Regions from separate parts of the Homo sapiens genome. Here region 1 is linked to region 2. The links come from fine-mapping of genetic effects on gene expression. A gene starts in region 2. The other region holds a variant in brackets. All regions are shown on one strand. Distances are between the middles of the regions. Region 1 has its middle 6.1 kb from the start of HAS1. Region 2 holds the start of ZNF615 (zinc finger protein 615).

The links. PIP is the estimated chance that this variant, and not a neighbour inherited with it, causes the effect.
Region 1: its variant is the best candidate, but not a certain one, in a credible set for the expression of ZNF615 in whole blood (INTERVAL, PIP 0.59).

The regions. Positions count from the first base shown.
Region 1 is chr19:51,728,662-51,731,573 of GRCh38, forward strand. No RefSeq gene overlaps it. Among named protein-coding and RNA genes, the nearest start is that of HAS1, 6.1 kb to the left of the region's middle. The variant CAG/C (reference allele first, on the strand shown) is at 1,666.
Region 2 is chr19:52,006,729-52,009,640 of GRCh38, forward strand. It overlaps ZNF615 (zinc finger protein 615), which reads right to left and starts at 1,483. Exons shown (of 7, transcript NM_001199324.2): 1 at 1,413-1,483; 2 at 565-602. It overlaps LOC124904755 (a long non-coding RNA gene), which reads left to right and starts at 1,570. Exons shown (of 2, transcript XR_007067321.1): 1 at 1,570-1,751. RefSeq lists enhancers at 1,244-1,853, 1,914-1,993.

The DNA of each region.
Region 1 (2,912 bases), 280 kb before region 2:
GGCAAGGGGCCCCTGGGCAGTAACCTGAAGAGATCCTTGTTTTATTAAATGCTTGAATCCCGGTAGATGGTTTCTTTGCCAGGTGTCCTGGATTGGGAAGGGAAATGCACACTGCGGGGATCTAGATACCGAGAGACAGAGGAGAAAAGGAGGGAGGGAGAGGAATGAAAGACAGAAGCTGGCTTCCACGACCATCTATTCAACAGCGAAAAACTGCCCTACCCCTGGATTCCTGACCCCCTTTACTCTCTTCTGCTTTTTCTTTTTCCCCATAGCATTGGTCCCCTTCCTATATAACGTATAACCTGCATAAGGTACGTTTAGTATCTTTTTTGTGTAATGTGTGTCTTCCTGGTTCGAATGCAAGCTCTAGACAGGCAGCTGTCTTTATCTGGTTTGTTCATGGCTCATTCCTCAGAGCCTGGACCTGTGTCTAGGTAGGTGCTCAACAAATATGTGTTGAACAATGTGTGAGGTCAGGATAGAAAGTCAGATTGGTAGATGGAGAGGGGAAAGAAAAAGGAGAGCGACCGGGCACGGTGGCTCACGCCTGTAATCCCAGCACTTTGGGAGGCCAAGGCAGGTGGAGCACTTGAGGTCAGGAGTTCAAGACTAGCCTAGCTGACATGGTGAAACCCCGTCTCTACTAAAAACACAAAAATTAGGTGGGCGTGGTGGTGCATGCCTGTAGTCCCAGCTACTCAGGAGGCTGAGGCAGGAGAATCGCTTGAACCCGGGAGGTGGAGTTTGCAATGAGCCGAGATCACGCCACTGCACTCCAGCCTAGGCGACAAAGCGACTCTGTCTGGGGGAAAAAAAAATGGAGAGGAAGGAAGGAGGGGAAGGAAAGATAAGGGAAGAAGGAGGAAGGAGAGGAGGAGGGAGGGAAAGAGAGAAGGAGGGGGAGGAAGATCAGAAGAGGAGGAGGAGAATGGAGGAGGGAGAGAGAGAGGGAAGGATAGGCAAGAGGGGGAGGAGAGAAGTTGGGGAGAGAGGGCCTAGCAGCTGGGACCCCCAACCGACTCCTGCGTAATAGTTCTATGGACACCACTCAGAGTGGCCAGTCCTGGGAGGATGGGTTGAGGAGCTCCGGGGAGGTGGGACCTTAGAGGAAAAAGACTCCAGGATCAGCAAAGACCCCAAGTCTGTAAAGAGACTGCCTCTGGACTTCCAGGAACTCAGAACCTTGGATGGGCTGGAGTTAGACGGGACCTTTTCTCCCCCACATGCCTATTCTGGGAAACCCCTAGGCTTCCATGATTCTGCCGAAATCCAGGGAGGGAGGGAGGGAGCCTAGCCAGCAATGATGACTGTACATCCACCTTCTGCCTCCAGCTAGTGCCTCTGGGAGAAACTGTAGGACTTCCAGAGCTGGGAGGAGGGAGAGAAAGGCCTGGAGGGGGAGAGCCCTGCCTGTAACAAGTTGAAGGCACTTTCTACCCCAGCATGCACCATCTCTCCTGCCACTTTCCCTGGAGAGAAACAGAGACAGTAAGAGCCAGACAGAGGGAGAGGGAGGGAGGGGCTTCCTTTTGCAAAAGCTGTTTATCCTCTCCAGGGAAGCAAGAGAGGAGGAGACCCATTTTCCAGATAGGGAAACTGAGGCACAAGAAGAGTCATTTCCTGGGACAAGTGATACAGCACACAGGCAGCATGGCTGGGTAA[CAG/C]AAATCAGGTGGTAGGCATTAGGTCACTAGGCTATGCCCTGCCAGTCACAGAGGAAGGAGGAGCTGGGGGCTTAGACTAAGATCTGAGAGCCTGGATTCCTGAGTCTGAGGGAGGAGCGGCTGGGATCTGAATTCCCTGGTCTGAGGAAGGAGGGGCTGGACCTGGACTCCCGGGACTAAGGGAGGAGGGGCTGGACCTGAACTCCTGGATCTGAGGGAGGAGGGCCTGGGACCTGGACTTCTGGGTCTGAGGGAGGAGGGGCTGGGGGCCTAGACTCTGGGGTCTGAGGGAGAAGGGGCTGGACCTGGACTCCTGGGTCTGAGGGAGGAGGGGGTGGGGGGGCTGGCATCCAGTGGGCTCAAGATGAGGCCTGGACCCCTAGATTCTCAGCTCTACTGCGTTCCGAGCTATCAGGGAATCTGCCCCGATATTCATGTAGGTTCTTTTCTATTTTCCTTAAGCGTTGGCCAGCTTGAGAAATAAAGGGACAGAGTACAAAAGAGGGAAATTTTAAAGCTGGGTGTCCGGGGGAGACATCACATGTCGGTAGGTTCCGTGATGCCCCACAAGCCACAAAAACCAGCAAGTTTTTATTAGGGATTTTCAAAAGGGGAGGGAGCGTGCGAATAGGTGTGGGTCACAGAGGTCACGTACTTTACAAGGTAATAGAATATCACAAGGCAAGTGGAGGCAGGGCGAGATCACAGGACCGCAGGACCGAGGCAAAATTAAAATTGCTAATGAAGTTTCAGGCACCATTGTCATTGATAACATCTTATCAGGAGACAGGGTTTTGAGATCAACTGGTCTGATCAAAATTTATTAGGAGGGAATTTGCTCTTCCAAATAAGCCTGGGAGCGAGCGCTATGGGAGACTGGAGTCTATTTCACCCCTGCAGTCTCGACCATAAGAGACAGGAGCACCTGGGGGGGATATTTATAAGCCTATACCTCCAGGCGCGTATTCTCTTTCCCAGGGATGTTCCATGCTGAGAAAAAGAATTCAGCGATATTTCTCCCATTTGCTTTTGAAAGAAGAGAAATATGGCTCTGTTCTGCCTGGCTCACCAGCGGTCAGAGTTTAAGATTATCTCTCTTATTCCCTGAACAACTGCTGTTATCCCGTTCTTTTTTCAAGGTGCCCACATTTCATATTGCTCAAACACACATGATCTACAATTTGTGCAGTTAATGCAATTATTACAGGGTCCTGAGGCGATATACATCCTCCTCAGTTGACAGGA
Region 2 (2,912 bases):
TTAATGGTAAAAGCTAGGTGGTAGGCATATTGGTATTAACATTAAACTTCTTTCAATATTTCCATAGGTTCAAAAATTTTCACAAAATAATATGTTAGGCAGAGAGAAAAATATTGTAATACTAAGAATTAAGATGACCAAATATAAAATAAATATTTAAAATTAATTTATCTTTTGTTATAGATTATAAGGAAAGGGGAGTCAGAAAGCAATACACTGCAATAAAAGTAATAGTCTAGATTGAAGATTAAAGGCAGGAAAAACAAAATTCATGGATAAATGGATAATCATAAAATGTTCCTAAAAATAATACCTAAACATTTTAAAACATTTCACTTCTATCCAAATGTACGCATAAACTTAATGTGAATGCACTTATAGTACCACCGGCTCAAACAGTAAAAACAACTTCTAAATGTTTATTACATAATATAAAGCGAAAAAGATAATAGTACCATTTACATAATTTATCTGAATTATGAATATTAAGCACATAACATACACGTCTAAAATTGAAATATTCTGAAAATTTGACAAAGGTTATCTTTGAGTAACCGAGCTTACCATGGCAGAGATGTTATCTTACTTGTGTCAGAAAGAACCTGAAAAGAAATATCCAAGAGGATACGCTGGAAACTTGCAGGACAAAGGGTAGAAGCCGCATCTTAAATATAAAACATACTACTTTTAGGTATGCTAGATGACTGATCTCGCCAAAAACTTCCATTTCTGAGGATTCAAGACCAAGGGGTGATGGAAGGTGCCAAAGGGGATTTAAAAACCAGTCGTGGAGAAGGGTCTTGGGCAGAAGGGGAATGCTAATGAGCATCAATTCTGTTCCAGCAGCCAGGGCTGGGGCTAACCCATCACCTGCCATGGTTCCCAGGCCTCCAGAGCTGCAGCCCACATCGGAATCTGTGGCGCTACCACCACCGCCACCGGGATTAATTCCAAAACCTGGATCAGAAACCTCCGTACCTTAACCCCCAAGACAGTTCCTCAATCATTTAGTCCCAAACAAAACCTGAACCATAAACCGATTCGCTGACAAAACAAACCCTCCAGTTCGCAATCACTGAGCCCCGCCAAAGGACAACACCAAAGACACCAGAATGTGACTTGGGCACTCAGTAGCGGATCTCTAGAGATCTTTAACCACAAACTACACGAGGACCCTGTGACTGGTCCCAGAGGTACCCCGATCACACACACACACACCCTATCACGGACCTCTTGTAGTTCCCCTGCGATAGGAATCGGACCCACGCTAAGCTCCTGAAAGAATTCCACTGGCGTCGCCAAACGCTGGCGCCGACAGATACCAGTCCATCACCACTGTCCACGAACACGCCCAGCCACGGACAGAATTTCCTCCCCCGTCACCACAGCGACCACCCAGTGACTGAACTTACTTCCCAGAACTTGGTGGGCTCCGGCCTCATCTCTCGGCCTCCTCAGTGCCTGACGGCGACTATCCAGGGTCGGAGGCGTTCCCAGCGTTTGCGCAGATGCAAGATGGCCGCGCCCTCGTCGCCTTGGCTCCATGGGGGCCGCCATCTTTGAGTATCTGACGTACACAAGGCAAAGGGCGCGTTTTGGCGCTGGTGACCGGGGGTGACCGGGGGTGACCGGGGATGGCCGGGAAGATGAAAGAGCACTGAAACTGTCCCATTTCCTGGCACCTCAACCCTTCATAAATACGGGTCCATATACAGAGGCTCCAGTTTACACAAGACAAAAATGGCGTGGAGGTAAATCCCTTTCAGCAGCTGAATAGAAGGCTAAGATGGCCGCGACGTTTACACTTTGTACAAAGGTTAGGAAACAGTTCCTTGTGAGGGAAAAGGAGAACCGGCCGAGAGGGGACACTTCGGCCAAAGCCAGATTTCTAACAAAGTAGCTTGAAGCGCCTTTTGAACGCAGAAGAGGGCTGTTAGCTACGCTGACGGAACAGGGGTAGCAGTCACAGACTAGGTAATGAAAACGGTTGGAACGTGCCAAAATTATGTTGGGTGAAAGGCATGGGGAAAAGCCAGTAAAAGCCAGAAAGTATAGTTCCCAAGGCGGAGGGGAGAGCCTGGGACCCAGGTGGAGCCAAATATGAGGGCTGGACTCAGGAGAAGTGGCCAGAAATTAAGGGAACAGGACCACTTCAGTGAGAAAAAAAAGGTTGGGAAAGAGGCCGGGCGCGGTGGCTCACGCCTGTAATCCCAGCACTTTGGGAGGCCGAGGTGGGCGGATCACCTGAGAGCGGGAGTTCGAGACCAGCCTGACCAACATGGAGAAACCCTGTCTCTACTAAAAATACAAAATTAGCCAGGCATGGTGGCGCATGCCTGTAATCCCAGCTACTCGGGAGGCTGAGGCAGGAGAATCGCTTGAACCCGGGAGGCGGAGGTTGCTGTGGGCCAAGATGGCGTCATTGCACTCCAGCCTGGGCAACAGGAGCAAAACTCCATCTCAAAAAAAAAACAAAAGAAAGAAAGGTTAAGAAGGAGATCACGTTATACTACGTGTGCCAACCGCGAATAGTATGTGCAAAGTCATGGCAATGCTGAACTGTAAATATAAATCCAACCAAACTTCCTATATTAGAAGAATGAGAGAAAGGAAATGCCTGTGTGAATCTATGTGTGTGATATAGGTATCAGTATATAAATATACAGAGAAATTGTCAAACTATTTTTCAGAGTCAAGTTCGTGTTCCATTTGCTCTTCTCACCCTTGGTATATGAGAGTTTTTCTTTTTTTTTGTTTTTTTTTTGTCTCTTTTTGAGGCAAGGTCCACTCTGTTGCCCAGTCTGGAGTGCCTGGGGAGATCACAGCTCACTGTAACTTGGAACTCCTGGGCTCCTGAATAGCTGGGACTACAGGTGGGCACCACCACACCTGGCTAATTTTTTAATTTTCTG